Linked DNA regions of Homo sapiens: region 2 is linked to region 1. The links come from fine-mapping of genetic effects on gene expression. A gene starts in region 1. The other region holds a variant in brackets. All regions are shown on one strand. Distances are from middle to middle.

Region 1 (12,206 bases):
TCTCCCATATGATGTCCTACCTTTGGATATGGCTGACTGCTGTATCAGGGTATCATTTTGTGTGGGCTTTTTAAAAAAAATTTTTTTTTTTTTTTTTTTGAGAAGGAGTCTCAATCTGTCGCCAGGCTAGAGTGCAGTAGCGCGATCTCAGCTCACTGCAACCTCCACCTCCCGGGTTCAAGCAATTCTCTGCCTCAGCCTCCTGAGTAGTTGGGATTACAGGTGCCCACCACCACGCCCGGCTAATTTTTGTATTTGTAGTAAAGACGAGGCTTCACCATCTTTGCCAGGCTGGTCTTGAACTCCTGACCTTGTGATCCACCTGCCTCAGCCTCCCAAAGTGCTGGGATTACAGGTGTGAGCTACTGTGCCTGGCCAAATTTTTTTTTTTTATAGAGACAAGGTCTCGCTATGTTGGCCAGGTTGGTCTTGAACTCTTGGCCTCAAGCAATCCTCCCACCTCAGCCTCCCAAAGTGCTAGGATTACAGGCATGAGCGACTGCTCCCAGCCTCATGGTATAGTTTAACTTGTTGTTCTCTACCTACCCAACTCCCAGTTTTTCCTTTTAATTAAGTGAGTAGTTCAACTTAGAGGTTTGATTAGTCCCATGTTCAATTTTTTTAGGTAAGAATCCTTCATGGATGGTGCTGTGTACTTCCTACTGCAACATATGAAGAGGCATGAGGGCAAAAAAAACAAAGAAAAAAAAAGGGGGAGCTGTTATAGAATTAAAGAGATCTAAGAGATACAACAAGCAAATCGAATGCACCCACATCATTTGGATCATGATTCAAACAATCCAATGTTAAAAGACAATGATGAGATGATCAGAAAAAAACTGAATGTGGACTAACTATTCAATGAACTAAAGAAATAGGCTGGGCACAGTGGCTCACACCTGTAACCCCAGTACTTTGGGAGGCCGACATGGGCAGATCACTTGAGGTCAAGAGTTCAAGACCAGCCTGGCCAACAGGAAGAAACCCCATCTCTACAAAAAAATACAAAAATTAGCCTGGTGTGGTGGCAGATGCCTGTAAGCCCAGCTACTCGGGAGGCTGAGGCAGGAGAACTGCTTCAACCTGGGAAGTGGGAATTGCAGTGAGCCAAGATAACGCCACTGCAGTCCGGCCTCGGTGACAGAGTGAGAGTCCACTCACCCAAAAAGATAAGGAAAGAAATTATTATTAACTTGGATACACTGAAAATGGTCTAGGATGGGTGAAGTGGCTCACACCCGTAATCCTAGCACTTTGGGAAGCCGAGGCAGAAGGACTGCTTGAGCCCAGGAGTTCAAGACCAGCCTGGGCAACATAGCAAGATCCTGTCTGTAAAAGAAAAAACAAAAAGGAAATGGTCTAGTGGTTATAAATTTTTTTAATGACCTTACTGGTTAGAGATTCATACTGGGATACGTACAAGTTTCAAGGCATGAAGCCTTGGATTTGCTATGAAAGTCTCCAGACTAAAACAAAAGTGGAGGCACAGATAAATATGACTGATATGACAGATGAATATGAATTGATAACCATTGAAGCTAAGTTATGGGTAAATATTATACTCAATTTCCATGAAAAAAAGTTAGAGTCATCAGAGCCTGATGAGTTCTATCTAATCTTTACAGTACAGAGATGACTCCAATATTATGTAACATTCATCAATCACAGAAAAAGTGAAGCCTCTCTAACAATTATATAAAACCAGCATTTCCAAACACAAATCAATAGAATAAAAAAAAAAAGAATTATAGAGATAGGTGCTTTTCCATTGATTTTCATCCTTCCTTCTTTTCTAATACTTGCATTCAAGGTTATAAATTTCCTCCACTGACTGCTTAGGTTAAATTCAACAAGGGTTTACATGTAGAATTCTTATTAAAATGCAATTGAAAATATTTCCACTGTGATTTTTTGAACTCAGATTATTTAGAAGCGTATGGCATAATTAACAATCATTCTGACAAGAAAACAGCATGTTCTGAATTGATAGTTCCAAAAAGTCACATGACTATTCTATGGTGAATAAATCATTTTGATATTGATTTATAGCTTAATTCCACTATAGTTAGAGAAAATATTCTATATGGTTTTAATCATTTGAAATGTATTTAGACTTGCCTGATGGCCAACCATACGGTGACTTTTTATAAATGTCCTATGTGCATCTGAGGAAAATTATTGAGTGCAGTGTTTTATATTGGTCAAGTTTGTTAATTAGGTATGTCATTCTAACCTTTCAGGGGTTGGGACTATTGTGGGTTAGCTGAATGTTTTTGTAAATAATGTTTTATCAGAACACAGCCACACCCATTTGTTTACACATTCTGTACAGCTACTTTCATTCTATAATTGCAGAACCTAGTAGATGCAGACAAGACCATTTAGCCGGCAGAGACTAAAATATTTGTCATCTGTCTGCACCTTTACAGAAAGTTTGCCAGCAATGGTTAATCTATACCCTTTTAGCTTTTTGTCTGCCTGTTCTCTCAGTTACTGAGAGAAGTATGTTAAGAATTTCCCATTATGATTGGGCATTTGCGGTTTCTCCTTGTGTCTAGCATACTCCATTCCTCTATACTTAACACACTAAGTATATGCTCTATTGACTTTTTTTTGAGATGGAGTTTCATTCTTGTTGCCTAGGCTGGAGTGCAATGGCATGATCCCAGCTCACTGCAACTTCTGTCTCCTGGGTTCAAGTGATTCTCCTGTCTCATCCTCCTGAGTAGCTGGGATTACAGACACCCGCTACCACGCCCTGCTAATTTTTGTATTTAGTAGGGATGGGGTTTCATCATGTTGGCCAGATGTCTCGAACTCCTGATCTCAGGTGATCTATCCGCCTCAGCCTCCCAAAGTGCTGGGATTACAGGCGTGAGCTCTCATGCCCAGCCCTCAATAGAACTTTTATGCACCAAAAGACATGTAGAAAAACGTTCATATCAACAATACTCATAACTCCCATAAGCCATAACAATGTCTCTTGATAGTGGAATGGATAATATGGGGTATAATCATCAATGGAATACTACACAGTAATGAAAAAGAAACGAGCTACTGCTATATGCAGCAACTTAGATGATTTTCACAACAAAAATATTAAGCAAAAGAAGCCAGCCACAAAAGAATGTGTACCTTAGGATTTCATTTATATAAAGATGACAACCAAGCACATCTATGATGTTTTTAAGATAATAATTACCTTTGGAGAGGAGAGAGAAGATGAGGGCTTCTGGGATGCTACATTATTCTATTTTTTTAACCTGGTGATTTTCAAGTATAATCACTTGAAAAAAACTTAAGAGACCAATTTCTCTTATAAATGTATAGGCAAAAAAATTTTTTAACTTTCTACTATGAAAAATTTCAAGCAAAAGAACAGTATACTCAAATTCCACATATTCATCATGTGACTTCAAGAATGACGAACTCACATCTAATTTTGTTTTATCTATACCACCATTCAGTCCCTCTCCAGCAATGGATTATGGATTATTCCGAAGCTAATCCAAGATATCTTTTCATTTTTTGATGCAAAAATATTAAATAAAATTTTAGCAAATAAAATCCAGTCTCATATTAAAAGAACAAACCATTATTGACAAGTATGGTTTATTCCCTCAGGAATACATGAAATTGGGAAATAGAGCAACACAAATCAAAGAAAATTTTAAAGAGAAAAAAATAAATGAAAATAATTGTAATGGTCAAAAGCCCTTAGGAAAGAGAAATAAAAACTTGATAAATCACAGTAATTATTTATTCAGACCATACTACGTACCTAGTACTACACTTTGAACATACTTAAAGAACATTTGCTCACTTAATCTTCATAATGATTCCATGAAAAAGAAACTATGACAGCTTTTTTCCACAAATAAGGAAACTGACTCAGAGATTAACGTACCCAAGTCAGAGGCAGAGGCAGGTACTTCTTACTCCACAGTCCATACACTTGCCACCTGGCTAAAATTATTTGCAGATGACAAAAATGCTCAACTAGAAAAAAGACGTCAATTTATAAGTTATATGTAATGACATGAGTACAATGAAGTGACAGAATAAACATATATATTTTTAACTTCTGTTCTTGTCAACTAAGTAAAATTAGGAACAAAAAAGGAAAGGGGGAGGGGTCTTATGCAAAAAAAAAGTCACGATTTACAACAAAAAGTATTAACTATGTAGAAATAAGCATAACCAGAAATGTCCAAGATACGTATGGAAAAACACTACAGATAGTCAAACAAATAAAAATATTGGGTTAATAGAAATCCATCACATGTTCCTGAAAGTGTTGTATCTAGATCTACATCAATTCTACCCAAATTAAAGCAACCACTTGATGAAACTGCAGCAATTTAAAAAACTCTCAAAGAGCATGTAATATGGGAATACGAAGTTGACAAGATGTTATTAAAGACGAATAAAATTATACCAATACCTAGACACCTGATCCCAACATTAAACATGAAATACACTAAACCAGAGTTATTTTCTGGAGGAGTATTTAAAATGATGGGGATGTTATTACTTGGGTCGCAATGAACCTGAAAACCCATTTTCTACAGAATATACAGCAGCAGGGAAGCAAGGGGACCAGCAGACCCCTTTTTAAGTACGCATGTGATAAGCAATGAACACGAACTGCCCAGAGCAGTCTCCAACACTGACACGATTCGCTTCCCCACCACGACGCCCTAGCGCTACTGTGCAACGAAGACCTCCCAAGCACTGGTTCCAATGCGGAGACCATGGGCTCCCAGACTCTGGGAACTCCAACACGACTGCGAAACGAACTCCGAGCGAGGACTCCCCGAGAGCTCCCCGCAACACGGACCTCACGCGCTAGCGAACAACAGAAAAAAAAAAGCGCGCTCTCCCTGCCCCTGAAACATTCCCAGAAGCCCACGCAGACCAGACCGATGACCTGTCTCCACTGCTGGAGGCGAGTCAGGGACCCGAAGTCTCTAAACACTCGCCTCTACCCGCCGCCCCGCGAACCCCACACACTGCAGACGCGACACTCGCAAGTTTCGGGGATGGCGGCCGGCGAGGGCCATACTGCGTCTTTCCGGAGACACGGAATACGGCACCAGCCGTCCCTTTATGATGCAATATGTCTGCGCCCAGGGGACGCTTGCTGGGAGCAGCCATTTTCAACCCTACTGCCGTAGAGCAGGCGGAGTCCCTCTTTTCGCGCCTTAAGACAGGTAGGTTCTGACGATGAAAAGCAATTGAAAACGACCCATTTCACCCTTTTTCCAGTCCACGTGAACTGCTAGATCTTGGCTTTGCAACATTAGCCAGGGGCGCTACATAAACTGCTTAGTTTCTCAAAGGCTCAAGCCTGCCCTGATCTGTCTACAGGATGGGTAGAGATGGTCACAGACATTTAGGCACTTTGATCCTAAGAAGAATGGAAAGAAACCATGTGGCGCGGCAGTCTTACAGGAATTTCAAGAGGGAGGGACCTGAGCAACAATCGGAGGGGTTATTACTCCTGAGGATGCATCTGGCTGGAGAAAGCAGCCTTTGAGAACTGCCTAAGAAGTATCTTTACATCTACATCAGATGTAGCCTCAGAGGAAGGAGTCAGTCATAGAATGGATAAAACAACCGCGTGTTAAAGCTTTGGTTATAATTGGTGTGGAGAATGGAGAACACAGTTGATCAGCAGTTGACAAAGTGGGGAACCAACACGAAAACAGGGCTCTCTCACCCTGGAAAAGCCAAAGGCAGAACAAGCCTTTACATCCAGGAAGGTGGGAGCAACTTGAAATCAAAACTCTGAAGGGGAGATGATTCTGTTCAATACTGAAACTCAGCTGATCAATTAACTGATGAATTCTAGCACCAAACCTGCTCCCTATAATTTTATAACCAGCCTCAGAGAACCTTTAAAGGGATTGATCATTCACTCATTTATCCAGCGAATGTTTATAAAATGCCTAATGTGTCAAACACTGTTGTGCGTGCTGGGAATACAACAGTTGGAAATTCAGGCACAAAGACTCTCATTCATGGAGATTACATTCTACTGGCAATTTCAGTGTGTGAGCTAAATTGAGTGGTGCTAACTGTTGACTTGGCTGGTTGACTGAAACTTGGACTCAAAATTTGCCTACACTAAATGAAGTTTAAATGCCAGAAATTTCCTCATATATTATAAAGTACCCAAAGATAAATGGAGTTTGGAATGCTAGAATGAATTTATCATGTAAAATCAAGATTACCCATACCTCAAATATGTATTCCAGTAGCATCTAGAAGACAATCTCTTCACTGACACTGATCTGGTCACAGGAAATAGAGATATACTACTGTAAGATTATTTTATTATACAGTAAGTGATATAATGTCCTTGAAGTTAGAATGATAAGTTCATGATTTTCTTTCAGTCAGTTCAGGCTACTAGAAAAAATACACCATAGACTGACTGACTGCCTTAACAAACATTCATTTCTCACGTTCCAGAGGCTGAGGAGTCTCTAGAACTGGACTCTAAAACACAATCAAGGTGTTGGCAGGTCTAGTGTCCAGTGAGAGTCCATTTCCTGGTTTATGCATGGTCATCTCATTCTGTCTTCACATGGCAAAGAGCAGAGAAAGAGAAAACAAACTCTCTTCTGTGTTGTCTCATAAGACACATAATCTCATCATGAGGGTTCCACTTTCAAGATGTAATTACCTTCCAAAGGTCACACTTCCTAATGCCATCCCTTAGGGATTAGGACTTCAACATGTAAATTTGGAGAGGACATAAATATGCAATCCCTCACAATGATGTATGCTATAAAATCTCAAGGAATCAAATGACAAGGATTTACAGTTAATAAGCCAACAAAGGAGACAATATGTAATATAAACACACTCAGCTACTCTAAGGGAAAGCAGAAAAAGAAGAAAAGGAGAACAAAGAAGACATAGAATAAACAACAAATAGTAAGTTAGTAATTTAAACCTAAAAACATCAATACATTGAACGTAAATGATCTAAATACCCCAGTAAAAAGACAGAGATTGTTAACTGGATAAAAAAGGAAGGCCCAACTGTATGTTGCCCACTAAACACCCACTTTAAATATGAAAGCATAAATAGGTTAAAAGTAAAACCATGATAAATAAAGATATGAAAGATATAACAGGGAAAAACCCATGTCAAATTATTAGAGGTTAAAAATTACAATTTCTGAGAGAAAACATACTTTGGATGGGATTAATGACAGATTAAACACTGTGGAAAAAAGATTAGTGAACTGAAAGACATAGCTATGAGAACTATAAAAAATGAAATAATGAAGGGTAAAATAATAAAAAGCATGAACATCATTTTCATGTACATATGTGTATACACAAAAAGATTTGTGAACTTGAACAAGGCAAGAGATACAATCTAAACTACAAAGAGAACAAAAGCTAACCCCTACCTTGGCCCCCGGAGTAAGAGATATCATTCTGAGGAACACCAAGTGGAAGCCTCTAAAACTGCCCCCCTCCCCAGCCAAACTCTATGATCAAGATAGTAAATGAAAAACAATATTGTGGGAGGGGTAGTGAGGTTTATAAGATATAAAAAAGTAAAATATATTTCATATCTTGTAAACCCTACTATACATATTAGTGCAGGGAGCCAAAGGCCCATGGGACATGACAAACTCAGCATTCCGCTGGAGGCTATATGATCAAACAGCAAACTGTTTATCATGAATGCAGGATGTGGGCAAACTCACACTGCCCTGCCACCATTGCCACAGTTACCATATTAACAGGGCTTTTCCCCTGCACATGTTCACTAGGACTTAAGCTGTGACTTGCTGTGGAAGGATTTTCCACCTTCACTGAATCCCCCCGTTTCTCCCTTGAGTGTATTCTCTTATGTTTAACAAGGCAAGACATATAGAAGTAAGCTTTCTCACACTCATCACAGCCATAGGGTCTCTCTCCCGTGTGAGTTCTGTGATGTACAATGAGCATTGTCTTTGTAAGGAAGGCTTTCCCACAGTCACTGCATTTATAGGGTTTCTCTCCTGAGTGAATTTTCTGATGTCTAATGAGTCCTGACTTCTGTGAACAGGGTTGCCCACATTCAGGACATACAAAGGGAGTCTTTCCTGTATGATATCTCTGATGTGCTACAAGGCAAGACTTCTGGCTGAAGGCCTTGCCACAGTCAATGCATCCATAAGGTTTCTCTCCAGTGTGAGTTCGTTGATGTATGTTGAGATTGCCCTTCTGAATGAAGCCTTTTCCACATTCACTGCATGTATGAGGCTTCTCTCCTGTATGAGTTCGCTGATGTACAACGAGTAGTGATTTTCTGGAGAAAGCTCTCCCACATTCGCTGCATTGATGGGGCTTAATTCCCGTGTGAATCCTTTGATGTTCAGTAAGCTCAGATTTCCTGGGGAAGGCTTTCCCACATTCACTGCACCCGTATGGTTTCTCTCCTTTGTGAGCTCTCTCGTGTTCAGTGAGCCTGTACCTCTTGTAGAAGGCTTTCCCACACAAGCTACACCCGTGGGGTTTCTCTCCTCTGTGAGCTCTCTCGTGTTCAGTGAGCCTGTACTTCTTGTAGAAGGCTTTCCCACACAAGCTACACACGTGGGGTTTCTTTCCTGTATGAATTCTCTTATGCTCAGTGAGCTGAGACTTCTTGAGGAAAGCTTTCCCACAGTCAGTGCATTCATGGGCTTTCTCTATGTTGTGTGTTTGCTGATGTTTAAGGAATTGTGACTTGGTGCTGATGGGTTTTCTACTTTCAGGGAATTCAATTTCCGTAGGCATTTGTTCATGATTATCATGGAGAAAAGCTCCATCTCCATTAAACTCAGCAGGCTCCTTTCTGTTGTATCTTCTGCTCTGGTTGGTTAAACCTAAATATGATTTCAAAGTTCTTCCGTGTTCATAGCGTTGTCCCGTCCTCTTCAGTATTTTTTGGTTTTGCAAGGGCTGCTGCAGATGATCATCAGCTTTCTCAATTTCTAAGAGAGAGAACAATAAATCCTTCCATGATCATCACACGGAATAAAACTGCTTCAAAGATGCCTTGGGGTTGGCTGGCTTTTTACTGGAACCCCTATAATACCAACATGGAAGGAATTCCAAGTATAAGTGTTCCCTATCTGTTAAAAAAACTTTTAAGAATTGTAGTTAAATACATATAAGATAAAATTTGCCAGCTGGGTGCGGTGGCTTATGCCTGTAATCCCAGCACTTTGAGAGGCCAAGGCGGGTGGATCACAAGGTCAAGAGATCAAGACCATCCTGGCCAACATGGTGAAACCCCATCTCTACTAAAAATACAAAAAAATTGGCTGGGCGTGGTGGCACGTGCCTGTAGTCCCAGCTACTCAGGAGGTTGAGGCAGGAAAATCGCTTGAACCTGGGAGACAGAGGTTGTAGCAAGCCAAGATCGCTCCACTGCACTCCAGTCTGCCAACAGAGCAAGACTCCATCTCAAAAAAAAAAAAAAAATTTGCCAGCCAGGCACAGTGGCTCATGCCTGTAATCCCAGCACTTTGGGAGGGTGAGGTGGGAAGATCACTTGAGCCCAGGAGTTTGAGACCAGCCTGGGCTACAATAGGGAGACTGTCTCTACAAAAACTTTTTTTTTAATTTAAAAAAGAATAATCCTGAGTAGGGAAACAGCAGACATAGGTAGTAGAATAAATATCCCAGAAAGGCAAGTTAGAATGTTGGATACACAGCCTTTGACTTCATCCTAATCCTATTAGACTGTTGGGTGCTAAAATATGCCCTTCTCCATTCTGTAGACCATCATCACGCTAACTTTCCTAGAGCACCAATCTCATATTTCCAGGAAAACTGCAGTCAATACTCTAACCTTTGTTAAAACAGAGATCACAAGACTGATGGAACAGACTCTTTGTAGCAATAAGATACCAAACTATAAACTAGGTCTAAGGACATACAGGTAAGGGTTAAGTCACACACCCCCTACATTTAAAGAATAAACTATGTTCTAACTGCCACGAGTGTTTTTTGTTTTGTTTTGTTTTGTTTCTTTTTCTGTAGCAGCTAAACAAACACTGGCCTTGGGACAAGCAATATTGAAACAATTGCAGCTCCCGGACCACCAGATGCTGACTAACTGATGCCCCTCACCCCCAACAGCATTCCACAGGCCATAACTGCAGCTATGATTGGACAGGAGACTGATCTCAATATCCTTCTCCTGATAAACACCAGCTGTTTTGGTCAGCTGCCGGAGTCTGTGCAGACTTTTCTTATATCCTGTAAAAGACCTGCTAGCATACAGTCAAATTCCACCTCATTTTAATGTTAAAACTCCACTCCAAAATGAAAGTGGATTATATGTTACATATATGTTTGCTCACTATGCACATGTTTGCTGATTCTCATAAAGATATTCATAAGACTCCCCATCTCTCACTGAATAGGTATGCAAAGCAAATCCTAGAAGGCAAAAAGCCTCCTGCAAGGCAAAAAAAAAAAAGTTTCCCCTCTTCAGTGATGTGTGTTTTTTCCACTTCCTCAAAGTCACACCACTCAGATCTGCGAATCATCTTTTGTTAGAATATAAAGTTTCTCTTTGCCTCCTCAATTTTTTGGTTAACACCTTGTATCTACCTGGCTATGATATATTCTCATATGTTCCAACAGAAAGAGAAACAGGGTGATCCCTATGGACTTTCAGAACATGCAAGCAGAACACGTGGTCCTCTCCACACAGCTCTGCCACTGCACCAAATATGGAAACTGTCACCTTCTTCATCATGCCCTACTTGCACAGATGTCATATTGGATTTTTTTTCCACTTTGCTGTCCCTAATATACTAATTCCTCACCTTGCCACTAACAGCCTCTACTCTCTGAATTTTGTACTTATGTCTCTGTTGGCATCGGTGAATGGAGCCCTCAAGGACCACCTCCCTACTTCTGAATCAAGACTTGAGGCAGCTTTACTTTTAGTTTTTCTTAGAACATCAGCTATACAGTATGATTGCTATAGTACTGCCACCAGGTGAAAGGTAAGCTCTACCTAGAGCTAGAAAAATACAAAACTTTACCTCCACCACTACCCTGAATTACTGGCACAGAAAATTCACAGCAGGAGCTGAACAATAAAAGTTTTACCATTACCATGACGCATCCACTTTAAGTTCCCACTTCACCATTTCCCAGCAAATATCTTCTAACTGTGGCCTCCATGTGACCAGTTTCAAGCTAATCTTTTTTTTTTCTTTTTTTTTGAGATGGAGTCTTGCTCTGTCACCCAGGCTGGAGTACAGTGGCACGATCTTGGCTCACTTCAACCTCCGCCTCCCAGGTTCAAGCAATTCTCCTGCCTCAGTCTCCCGAGCAGCTGGGATGACAGGCACGTGCCACCACGCCTGGCTAATTTTTTGTATTTTATGTAGAGACAGGGTTTCACCACATTGGCCAGACTGGTCTCAAACTCCTGACCTCAGGTGATCTGCCCAACTCGGCCTCCCAAAGTGCTGGGATTACAGGCATGAGCCACCGCACCCGGCCTTCAGGCTAATCTTCTGACAGTCCCCACATGGCCTTGCATTTCCAGTTCTACAACTTCTTGTCATATGTCTTCATCTTAATTCAATACCTAGCTATGTCTCTTGCATAAGATATTTTATCAGTCTGTCTTTCTCCATCTTGTCTAGACCACTGTAGGTTACATTTCTTCTAAAGTCCTACAATTCTTTCTGTATTTACTATTCACTTTAACTTTGTATAGCCCTGAATTGTAACAAAAACATTTCACACGTTCAAAAGTTTAATTTGTAAATATTACATAAAAATTTGCCCTATTTTTGCTAACAAAATCTTTGCTCAAGAAAGACATTTCTGTTTCTCACTAAATTCAGTCTCTTCTACTGTGTATTATGGCTACAGTTCATCAACTCATAAAAACAGCCCCCGAGAGAGCTTCATGTAAAGACACGCCCAGGCCCCCAACTCAATTCTAACAAAACCAGACTCACAGAGCAAGAGGCCTTGGTATGGACAGTGTCATGAAAACTCCTTTAATAAAGATCTAGCCTTTAAGAAATGCTTAATAGATGGAAAAGTATGACCTCTCTTCAGCCTGGCTAATCTGTCCTTCGATGAAGAAATGCATGAATGACCAAGATGTATTTCAATCTTACATGAAGAAGAATGAAAACCAGGCCCTTGACTCCAGAGTAGCAAAGGAACCTCAA
Region 2 (12,206 bases), 28 kb before region 1:
AACATAGTTAACATAGCTGACTTTTAATCTTTGCATATTAAGTCTGACATATGAGCCTCCTCAGGGGTAGTTTCAGTTGACAACCTCATTTCCTGAATATGGACTATACTTTTCTGATTGTGTGTCACAAATTTTTGTTGAATATAGAAATTTTAGATCATATAAAGTTGTTACTTTGGAAATCAGATTCCCTCTCTCCCCAGGGTTTATTGTTGCGATTGTTGTTGCAGTTTGTTCAGTGGCATTCCTGGAGTAATTTATGTATTCCCTGCAGTGTGCAGTCACTTGAAGTCTTTTCTTAGTTAGCTAATGATTAATCAAGATTTCCTTCATTTCTCTGAGCAAGTTTTCCACTCTTTGCTGAGGGTGCTGTGTGTGTGTGTGTGTGTGTGTGTGTGTGTGTGTGTGTGTCTACTTCAATGCTCAAGCAGTTTGTAAGTCTACTTTAGCCTTCTCTTCCTTCTTCTCAAGGGCTTCAAGATCAGCTAGAAGTGAACTACTGGTACCCTCAGGTATCTCATGGGCATGCACACATCCCTGTGTATGTGTTGGGCCTTCTAGATCCTCAGGAATATGTCAGAGTATTTAAGAGTTCCCTATTAACATCTTGTTCTTCAGATGTCCGTTTAACAATTTTTCAGAGCTCTTGTTTGCTCCCTAACGGTACTGCAGGCTTAGGCTACTACAAAGTTAAACAATTGAAGCTGATCGTTTTTGACCAGTGCCCTAGTATCGCACTTTTCCTTCAAAGTGAGCTTTGAGTCAGGTGAGAGAATGAGTTAGGACAAAGAATGGAACCACATCATGGAGCTGTAAGACAAGATATATAATGACATTGCTCTGAGGATGAGGCTTTTTGAGGATTTCCAAGCTTATTTGTCTCCTCTGATACAAGGGTGGTGGTTGAAGGCTGATGGTCTTCATGGCTACTGTGGTTCTGAGGCTGCTGTTTTCCAACGGTAATGCAGATCTGGGGAAAGGGATATAGAAGTAGGCCAAATTAAAATTCCACATACCCCACTATTTTTAATGAGGTTCAAAATTTTTTTCTTGAAAAGAAAATGCTGTTCAAAATATTGTAAGCCTTTGGTTATTTTCCAAAATTGACTGTGATGATGTTTATGTTGTTTTAATGAAAGGATGGATACGCAGAGGCCTTGTCTCTGCTATTCTGGACATCATGCCTTATCACATAATTTATTTTTTGCACAGTAATCTCTGGGATAAAAATTTATTAACTTTACAAGTAAATACCCTAAGTCTTCTAATGATTAAATGGTTTACCATGGGTTATACAGTTGATACACAAAGCCATTACTGTTTATCAATATATAATACTGCACCAATTTAATAATTGTGCTAATGAACTGTTAAAAATTCGAATATGTCCCCAGATTATTTCTACCCAACCTCACCTCCATGCTTCCATCAAGTATCTCAAAGAAAAAATACAGAGAACATCAGGATAATGCTAACAGACAGTTTTGTGTTTATTTGGTTGTATGCCTGCCTTCTGAGTAAAGAGTAAAGCCTCTACATCGCTAAGTCAATGTCATACAAATCCTTTAATTATCCGTATTTTGGGTGTATGTCTGTCATATTCTAGACATCCACATACCCTTGCTTTCTTAAGTGAATAACCAGATTCTCTGAAGAAGAGACACTGTTGTGAACAGGACCATCAGTAATTTTGGATTTTTTTTCACCATTTAAGACGAGAAACTTGGTGCTCGGGGACCTTGAACATCAAGATCGGGGGGCTGAGGGAGGGATAATATACTGCATGAAAGGTGGTAGTATATTGCAGCCAGAGGCTTGATTGGAAAAGAACAGCATTATGAATGAGCAGGATAGAACTGATAAAGTAAAACGAAATGAAAGTACTTCCTAGAAGCAGCATGATTTGAATGGCTTTTGCCTCAGGGGAGAATCTGTAGGAGCTGCTGAGGGTGTGAATGCGCCTCACTCTACCATGTAGACACCAGCTCCAACCATGAGTCCATGAAGACAACATCTGGGAAAGTCAAGAGAAATGTGTATTTTGTGTAATCTCAGCACTTTGGGAGGCCGAGGCAGGCGGAACATGAGGTCAAGAGATCGAGACTATCCTGGCCAACATGGTGAAACCCCATCTCTACTAAAAATACAAAAATTATCTGGGTGTGATGGCGCACGCCTGTAGTCCCAGCTGTTCAGGAGGCTGAGGCAGGAGAATCGCTTGAACCCGGGAGGCGGAGGCTGCAGTGAACCGATATCGTGCCACCGCATTTCAGCCTGGCGACAAAGCGAGACTCCATCAAAAAAGAAAAGAAAGGAAGGAAAAGAAAAGGAGAAAGGAGAGAAAGAAAGAGAGAAAGAAAGAAGGAAGGAAAGAAAGAAAGAAAGAAAGAAAGAAAGAAAGAAAGAAAGAAAGAAAGAAAGAAAGAAAGAAAAGAAAAAACAAAGAAAGGAAGGAGAAGAAATGTGTATTTTGCAGTAGATGTTTCAGGATTTTTAGAAGAGCATAGACCACAATTTCATATCTTGGTAGAATTGGGGATATGCCGAAGGGCCTCTACATGTTTAAGAACAAAGATTTTTATTGTAGGTTGAAGAACCAATACAGAAAGCAGGAGAAACCGATGTTCTTCAAAGCTCTGTCTTTGAACCTCATCCACCCACCAGCCTTCGGGTGGGTGATTGCCTGAGAACTGCTCAAGTGGCAAGTGACTGTAGCTTTCAGGCTGCTCACCAGAAATATACAGATACATATATATCTGTACACATACACACACACACACGCACACACACAAAACTCTAAGAACCTATTATCTCATGTGCTGCTTTCAAATCTAAGATTATTATTTTAAAATTTTTTGTAGAGATGGAGTCTCGTTACGTTGCCCAGGCTGGTCTCAAACTCCTGGGCTCAAGGGATCCTCCAAAGGATCCACCTGTAATCCCAAAGTGCTGGGATTACAGGTGCGGGCCATTGTGTCTGGCCTGCTTTTAGTCTTTGAGCTTTACAGGGCCCTGAAGGCCTATCTTTGAATTCCCTTACTCTCACCAGATATGCTCCCACTGCACAGGAAAGGCTCCCACCCAGCTAACTCCCCAATCAGCTGAACTAGCTGCACCCAACATGGTCCTCAATCTATATTCAGCCCATGGAATTATACAAAGCAATTGCATTCTTCCACAGAAACCATGGGCACGTTACCCTCTCATTATATAAAGCCTACTTCCCACAATCTCCGTGCTTGTTCACTCTATTCCTGAGTGCAATACCTATATGCAATGACCATTTCTCTCAGGCTGTATCTGTGACTAATAAACTGCTGTCAATTTCATCTAGCCAGTGTCAGGTGTTGTGTTCAGCCATTCCATACTACTTAGGGTAGGGAGTCCCTCCCTCATGCACCAGGGTGAATAGGAGGTTGTCAGAACATATGACACACACAAACACACACAGAAAAATGTTGCAATGGTCAAATCCAGATTAGTGTTTAGTACTCCTTAAACATCTTTATGTCTGAAGATTTTCATAATAAAATGGTGAAGAAAAGATTTCTTGACAACTGTCAAACAAAATGGGGAAGGGGCAAAAATCTAGAGAAAAAAATAAGCAAGATTTTGCTGGTACATTTTTACAGAATTCCTTGCAAAACAATAGGTTTCACTGATAACCAAAATAAGTCAGTTATTTCACATGGAGGTAAAAAAAAACCTTGCTTTTTAATAACTAGAATACCCACTAGAAGTTTTATAGAAGATTCAGTCAAGTAAGTCTCATTTTGTTAAAAAAAAGTCCATATTTGAAGTGCCAGAGTTCATGCAATATTTTTCTTTTTAAATATATTTTTCTTCATGTAAAAATTCAAATATTAACAATTTTAGAGTGTACAATTCAGTGAAGTTTAGCACATTCACAATATTATGCAACCACCATCTCTATCTAGTTCAAAAACATTTTCATCATTCTAAAAGAAAACCCCATACATACTACGCAGATAGATTGCATTCTCCCTTCCCCTCTAGTGCCCAATAACCACTAATTTGCTTTATTTCTCTATAGATTTACCTATTCAGAGTATTTGATATAAATGAAAGTATAAAATGTGGAATTTGCATTTGGCTTCTTTCACTCAGTATGTTTTTTGGGGCTCATTCATGCAACATGTCATCAGTACTTCATTCATTTGTATAACTGACCATTTATGTATTCATGTGTACATGCATGTAGCACATTTTATTTATTCATCCTTTGATAGGCATTTGAGTTTTTTCAACCAAATGCTATTTTGGCTATTGTGAACAGTGCTATAAACATTCATGGACAAATATTTGGTTGAGTACCTGTTTTCAATTCTCATGGGTATTTTACTTAGGAATGGAATTCCTGGGTCATATGGTAAGTCTGGATTTAACTTTTTGAGGAACCACCAAAGGAATGGCATATTATCATAACAAATCAAAAGTTTCGGTGTGACACAAACTTGAAATATATAGCCATAAACTCACCTCATATAACCTCACACTTTTTTCTTCCATTACTCTAATGTGTTGCTGGTTTTTAAATATTTTAGGTAAATCTTTTATAATCTTTGGATGTTTCAGAGTTATAAGGCTCTAGAAAAATGTAAACTTCTACTTGTGATGGATCATCACAGTGGGCAAAAATACTACAAATGACAGCAAAAATAAGGAATTCACACTTACGTGGTATAATCCTTTAGACTCCTTAATAATGAGTCAAATATGTATTACAAGACATTTTGATTCATAAGAAAAAAACATTTTATTTGCACTACATTGAATTATTCAACATTTTGTCTTATGTTGAGAATTTCTTTAACCCTGAAAATTGTTTCTTCGTGTAATTCCAAGTAAACAATGAAGTTTATAAATATATAAAGTACATGTCACATAGTACAGTCCACAACACAACCCCTAAGATCCTTTGTCACTATTCGACTAATCCTTATTATATTCTTATTTTTCATATATTCAAAAGGAATATTTGACAATGAAATGTCTAATATTTATAGAATATTCTCTGGAATCCTTTCTATAATAATTATGCAAAACCATTATAAAATTATATATACAGGCAAGGGTAATTACTCAAATCTAAAGTGCCATCACACATTTAAAAAGCCCTGACAATTACTATGACATTCCAGATCATAAGATGCTTCACAATTTAAGACATGGTAGGATGTGAAGAAGTGAATCCATGAAATAAAAAATAACTTATCACTGATGCTTTTACCACTTTCACTGCATTCATAAAATCTCTGTATGGAGCAAATTCTGCTCCTATATTTAAAAGCTTGTGATGTTTAATGCTATCTAATCCTCCACAGAAATTATTTCCTGTGACCAGAACCATTGCTTTTAGGTAAATGTATGACTCTGCTGAAGCAGAATAGATATGGCTCCATTAGGATTTTATACCTGCATTGAACCTAAATATTATTGCCTTCGAGAATAGGATCTTTCTGATAACTGAGTTAGGGGGCAATTCAGCTCTGAATTTTAAATAAAGAATTTTAGACAATCACTGCAATTCTTTCCTGCTATGCAATGGGTTTTGTGGCCAATGGCCAAGTTTAACTCTATCGTTTTCCCTTCTGATTTAAGTATCTGATGTATATGTCACTTTCAAAAGCTTTCCACATTCCGTTTCAGAAGGACCTATCTACCACATGAGTTTGCTGATATAATTAGTGACCTTTGGTATCTACATGAAGGCTTTACCACATTTACTATATTAATAGGGGTTTCCTCTTGTATGAGTTTGCTATAACAAGAAAGATAAACATTAACTGGGAAGACTTTATCACAATCACATTCACTGTATCTATGAGATTTCTCTCGTAAACAAGATATTCAAAGAGTTTTGACTTTCAGATTTTAATTTTTACCTGCAATGAGGTGTGATTCTTCTTAGCTTTCCTGCATTCCCTCCATCTGTAGGGTCCTTCTCCTGAATGAATACCCTAATGTGTAACAAATATAATTTGAGAATGATTTATCATTTTCATTACATCCACTGGTGCTGCCTACTAAATGGAAAGCTTCTAGTTTTCTAATAAACTTTTTTGACAATCACTGCACTCATAATTGACTCTCT[C/CT]TTTTTTTTTTTTTTTTTTTTTTTGAGACAGAGTCTCACTCTGTCACCCAGGCTGGAGTACACTGGTGCAATCTCGGCTTACTGCAACCTCCACCTCCTAGGTTCAAGAGATTCTCCTGCCTCAGCCTCCTGAGTAGTTAGGATTACAGGTGTGCACACCACACCTGGCTATTTGTTTTTTTTTTTTTTTGTATTTTTAGTAGAGACAGGGTTTCATCATGTTGGCCAGGCTGGTCTCGAACTCCCAACCTCAAGTGATCTGCCTGCTTCAGCCTCCCAAAGTGCTGAGATAACAGGCATGGGCCAATGCGCCTGGCCAATGATTCTTCTTGTGAGATCTCTACGGTAAACGAGGGATATCTTCAAAAAAGAAGGCTTAAAATATTCATTGCATCTATAAGGTTTCTCTCCCACAAGAGTTCCAAAAGGGCCCATTACAATCATAGTATTCATGGAACTTCTATTGTGTCTGAGCTGATGTGACTAATCAAAAAAGCTCTCTCATATTCCAAGTCACTGCATGGACTTTCTTCCTTCCTGCTGGGGTTTCTGATGATTAGTAATAGCTGATTTCTGAGTAAAGCTTTTTGACATTCACTGCATCTATAGGGCCTCTTTCCTGTGTGAGTTCTCTGGTGACCAATGAGAGTTTACAAAGTAGCGAATGCTTTCTTACAATCACTGCATTTATATGGTTTCTCTCCTGTATGAATTCTCTAATGTACAGTGAGACAGGATTTAACTATGATGGCTTTATTACACATGCTACATTTGAGGAGTTTCTCACCTGTATAGGTTCTCTGTTATATAATGAGAGTTGACTTACAGGACAAAACCTTCCCACATCCACTGTATCCATAAGATTTCATTCTTGCATGGCAAGTTTTTCGATGCTTACTGAGACCTGTCTTTTGGGTGAAAGCTTGTTGACCTTCATTGCATCATAGGGTCTCTCTCCTGTGTGAATTGGCTGATGAGTCATGAGATATACCTTACTGGAGAAGGCCCTATCACAGTCTGAGCATTCATATGATTTATTTCCTATATGAGTTCTCTGATATACAATGAGATTTCCCTTTGATGTGAAGGCTTTATCACATACATTGCATTTGAAGGGTTTCTCACCTGTATGGGTTCTCTGATGTATAACAAAGTTTTTTTTGGAGGATAAAACCTTCCCACATTCACTGCATTCATGGGATTTCCTTACTGCATGATGAGTTTTCTTATGATTGTTGAGATCCAACTTCCAGATGAAAGCTTCTTGACATTCACTGCATCCATAGGGTCTTTCTTCTGTATGAATTCACTGATGCTTCATAAGCTGAGCCTTTTTCAAGAAGGCTTTCTCATAATCCAAGCAAGCATATGGTTTCTCTCCTGTGTGAGTTCTCTGATGTATAGTTAGCTGTGTTCTAACCATGAAGGCTTTATGATAGACTTTGCACCTGAAAGGTCTCTCTCCTGAATGAGTTCTGAGATGCAAAATGAGGTTCGACTTCCAAGGAAAAGCTTTCCCACATTTACTGCATCCATAGAATTTTCCTTTTCTATGAAGAACTTTCTGAGGATAACTGAGCTCAGATCTGGTCTTCAAAGCTGTTTGACATTGAATGCATTAATAGGGTATCTCTCCTGTGTGAATTCACTGATGAATCATGAATAAAGCCTTTTTTGAGAAGGCTTTTTCACAATCTGAGCAAGCATATGGTTTCTCTCCTGTGTGAGCTCTCTGATGTACAGTGAGATGTGTCCTAACCACAAAGCCTTTATCACATACTTTGCAAATGAACGGTCTCTCTCCTGAATGATTTCTTTGACATAAAATGAGTTCTGACTTCCAAGGGAAAACTTCTCCACATTTGCTGCATGTACAGACTTTCCCTTCTCTATGATGAGTTTTCTGATGATACACAAGCCCTGAATTTGTAATGAAGGCTTTTTGACATTGATTGCATCAGTAGGGTCTCACTCCTGTTTGAGTTTGCTGATGAGCAATGAGCTTTAACTCACTGGGAAGGGCTCTCCTAAAATCATGAGATTCCTGGGATTTGTTTCCTGCATGAGTTCTCTGAGGCATGGTCATGAGTAGTTTACAAGTATTCACTGCACATTCACTGCATCCATATGATTTCTTTCCAAAAAGAATTGGTTATAATTAGCAAGCTCTGACTTCTGGATGTTATGAAAGCTAGTGTACGCACAACAGAGTAAGTGAGATAACAAGAAGAGGTCCAGAAAAAGGCTTCTTTTCCCATTTACCATAAAAAGATATTAGTAAGATGGTTAAATTTGAGTAAGCTCTGTATTTTAAATAATAATACTATATCAATGTCAATATTCTGATTTTGATCACAGTATTCTGATTATGCAAAAGAATGCTCTTCTTCCTATGAAATACACACTTGGGTTTTAGGGTAGAGTTCAGAAAAACCATATGTACCTGTGTGTGGTGTGTGTGTATAGATAAAATAAAGCAAATTGGTAAAATCATATTTTGGGGAAATTTGCAAAAAGAATGTGCAAGAATTTTGTGTATCATTTTGGAACATCTCATTAAATCTAGACCATTTGGAGACAAGCATTTTCAAAAGGAGAAAATAAAAATAAAGATATTGATGAAAACATACATAGGGACACTAAGTATAATGGCCTGAATGTAAAAGAGATAAACAGTGTAATATTCACCCAATGCCATTCTGCACAGGACTCAGATTCTTGATCTAGGTGCTGGTTGCACAGTGTGCTGACTAGAAAGTTACCTAGCTGTATAATTACATTATATGTATGTTATACCAAAACATTTTTCATTAATAAGTAAACAAAAACGTTTAGGCCGAAATCAGGGAATGCTCCCTTGTAGGAGGATCCTGAAAAGAATTTGGATCTTGTGCTAACAGTAACAGGATGCCATTACCAATGATAGTGGGAGCAGGATGACATGTCCTGATTTCCAATTTAAAAGCAACATCCTGTGTGTATGTTTATCAGTAATTAACACTGACCATGTCTTAAATATTATGGCATGAATATTTTTAGGCTTGCACCCTGTGAATGAGTACAGATTTGCTACATCATATAGCATTTTTTAGACCATAATTTAGATCTTTCCATCCTCCAACTAAGATTTACCTTTTTATATGAAGCTTTAATTACTTTCCGCAACACTTTTGTCAAAATCTGAAGTCTTTTAAGAACCAAGATGTTTCTGATGTTTATTTTAATGTTCAGGGATTTTGGAGGTGAGGGGCTAGAAACACTGACTCCTGCCCCTGACTCCCGCCCCTGACTCCCGCATTTATTTTCATAAATGAAAATAGTAAAATAAATTCATTAAGGGTATTATGTGGAGAATAGAAACAAGAGTAAAGGACTGAGAGTATATTAGAGAAAACTATCATAATTTTGGCAAGAGATAATGGACATCGAAGCTTGAGTGAAAATAACTGTTAGAGAAAGGAGTAGAGGACCTCGAGATATAAGGAGAAAGTAAAGTCTAAACTTGCTAAATGGACTGGATTTGTGGGATGAGTGAAACGGTGAAGCAAGGATGACTTGAAGTTTGAGTTAGCTATTAGATCTCCAAGCAATTCCCAGGCAAATGTAGGAGGATAAGGAAATATCTAGCCTGTAGAGAGAAATCTGTGAGTCATCAACATATAAATAGCATTGTTAAGTCCATGAAATCGAAGAGGTCACACTGGGAACAAAGAAAAGAAATTACCAATGATGAAGCACCCTTACGCCCTCCAACTCTGAAGGCTTTGGGAGAAGGAGATGCCCAGAGAATGGAAAAAGTCCATCCATCACGCTCAAACAATAAGTACCCAGAAAAGAGGCCAACTTAAGTCTTAGGAACCAACATCTGTGGGAAGCAAGATAAAATGAAGTCTTCTCAGCTCTTCACATAAATGTAAGTGCTGTCACTCTGTTTCAGATTCATTCTTCTTTAATTCTGCATGCAACAGTCAATGAACTTTCCCAAAGATTTTTTTTTTCTTGAGACGGAGTTTCGCTCTTGTCACCCAGGCTGGAGTGCAATGGCGCAATCTCAGCTCACTGCAACCTTCGCCTCTAGGGTTCAAGTGATTCTCCAACCGCACCTCTGGAGTAGCTGGGATTACAGGGCACTCGCCACCATGCCCAGCTAATTTTTGTATTTTTAGTAGAGACAGGGTTTCGCCATGTTGGCCAGGCTGGTCTTGAACTTCTGACCTCAGGTGATCCACCCACCTCGGCCTCCCAAAGTGCTGGGATTACACACGTGAGCCACCATGCCCGCGCCTTCCCAAAGATTTCTAACACCATATATACAGGAACACCACTGTGGTGAGCACTCCCACCTTCTAGGTTGCTTTGATACATTCTCATATGATTCACTCAGGTCTGTAGGAAATACAAAAATCAGGCCAAATATCCTTACCCCAGGATAAAAGGCAGTGCTGTGATGATGTGTCGATTGTGAGAATCTAAGTCAATATAAAGAGAGAAAAAGGCACATTTTCTTTGAAACGCCAAACAAAAGAGAGCCTCATCAATGATCTAGGTATCTGTAGTCACCTTCCAAGTCTTTGCCCTGTTAAACACATTTGGAAGGGGTCCAACCCTCATGGTCAGCTCCTTTACTTTCCAGGTCTCCCATCTTGTTGGTTCTCACTCACCTGAAATGCACTGACCTCACATTTTATCCTCTATTCTCCATGTTTGAAATTAAATATCACTGGCTGGGTGCGGTGGCTCACACTTGTAATCCCAGCACTTTGGGAGGCTGAGGCGGGCAGATCATGAGGTCAGGAGATTGGGACCATCCTGACCAACATGGTAAAACCCCAGCTCTACTAAAAATACAAAACTTAGCTGGGTGTGGTGGCACACGCATGTAATCCCAGCTACTCAGAAGGCTGAGGCAGGAGAATTGCTTGAACTCGGGAGGCAGAGATTGCAGTGAGCTGAGATGGCGCCACTGCACTCCAGCCTGGCGACAGAGCAAGACTCCATCTAAAAAAAAAAAAAAATTAAAGATATCTGGTTTGGTAGCTTAAGAGCCTGTTTATGGGAAATGACAAAGACTTGAACACTTATAATTGGGCTTGATGGGAGGTGTCTATGAACAGCACAGAAATGTTTCTGGAACTGACACACTTTCAGCTCGGCAGATTCAACATCTACTATGACAGAGGCTGCAGTGAGCCAAGATTGCACCACTGCACTCCAACCTGGGTGACAGAGCAAGACCTGTCTCAAATAAAAATTAAAAATAAAAAAAAGTAAAATAAATACATAAGGAACCACCCCCAGCTGACAGCCAGCAAAGAAACAAATCTCAGAATTAGTCTGCCAATACCCTGGATAAGCTTGGAAGTGGATTCTTCCCAGATTCTTCCAATAAGAGCCCTGTTGGCCCACACCTTGACTTCAGTCTTTGAAACCCAGATCAAAGAAACCAGTCAAGCCAATCCAGACTTCTGACCTAAAGAACTGTGAGACAATAAATTTGTGTTGTTTCAAGCTGCTAAACGTTTGTGAGAATCTGTTTTGGCATCAACAGAAAATTAATACATTATTGACACCAGAAACATCAGAAACAGGCCAGTTGTGGTGGCTCATGCCTATAATTCCAGCACTTTGGGAGGCTGAGATGGGCAAATCACCTGAGGTCAGGAGTTTGAGACCAACCTGGCCAAAATGGTGAAATCCCATCTCTACTAAAAATACAAAAATTAGCCAGGCGTGGTGACACACACCTTAATCCCAGCTACTCAGGAGGCTGGGGCAAGAGAATCACTGGAACCCAAGAGGCAGAGGTTGCAGTGAGCCATGATCGTGCCACTGAACCTGTGTGACAGAGTGAGATAAGAAGAAAGAAAGAGAGAGAGAGAGAAAAGGAAGAAGGAAAGAAAGAAGAAAGAAAAGAAAGAATCAGAAACAACTTAAGTACATCATACATTCTTACATATTTATTCACCTGTATTCACACTTAAGGCACTCTGTATGAAGCTACATTTCCTCATTCCACCTTTACCTGAATCTTGATTTTATGGTTTCTGTTTAGTTTTCCTTAAATTTTTAAATTACAAATGTATGTATTTCC

Evidence for each region. PIP is the estimated chance that this variant, and not a neighbour inherited with it, causes the effect.
Region 2: its variant is fine-mapped to the expression of ZNF577 in fetal neocortex (Walker 2019, PIP 0.95). The same link has a PIP of 0.9 or more in prefrontal cortex.

Annotation. Positions count from the first base shown.
Region 1 is chr19:51,882,914-51,895,119 of GRCh38, forward strand. It overlaps ZNF577 (zinc finger protein 577), which reads right to left and starts at 5,038. Exons shown (of 6, transcript NM_001370449.1): 1 at 3,908-5,038. ZNF649 (zinc finger protein 649) reads right to left here. Exons shown (of 5, transcript NM_023074.4): 5 at 6,322-8,984. The coding sequence ends at 7,705. ZNF649-AS1 (ZNF649 antisense RNA 1) reads left to right here and starts at 5,112. Exons shown (of 3, transcript NR_110733.1): 1 at 5,112-5,213. RefSeq lists an enhancer at 4,311-5,162.
Region 2 is chr19:51,854,998-51,867,203 of GRCh38, forward strand. ZNF577 (zinc finger protein 577) reads right to left here. Exons shown (of 6, transcript NM_001370449.1): 6 at 12,051-12,206. It also overlaps the pseudogene VN1R98P and the pseudogene LOC100419706. Among named protein-coding and RNA genes, the nearest start is that of ZNF577, 27 kb to the right of the region's middle. The variant C/CT (reference allele first, on the strand shown) is at 6,116.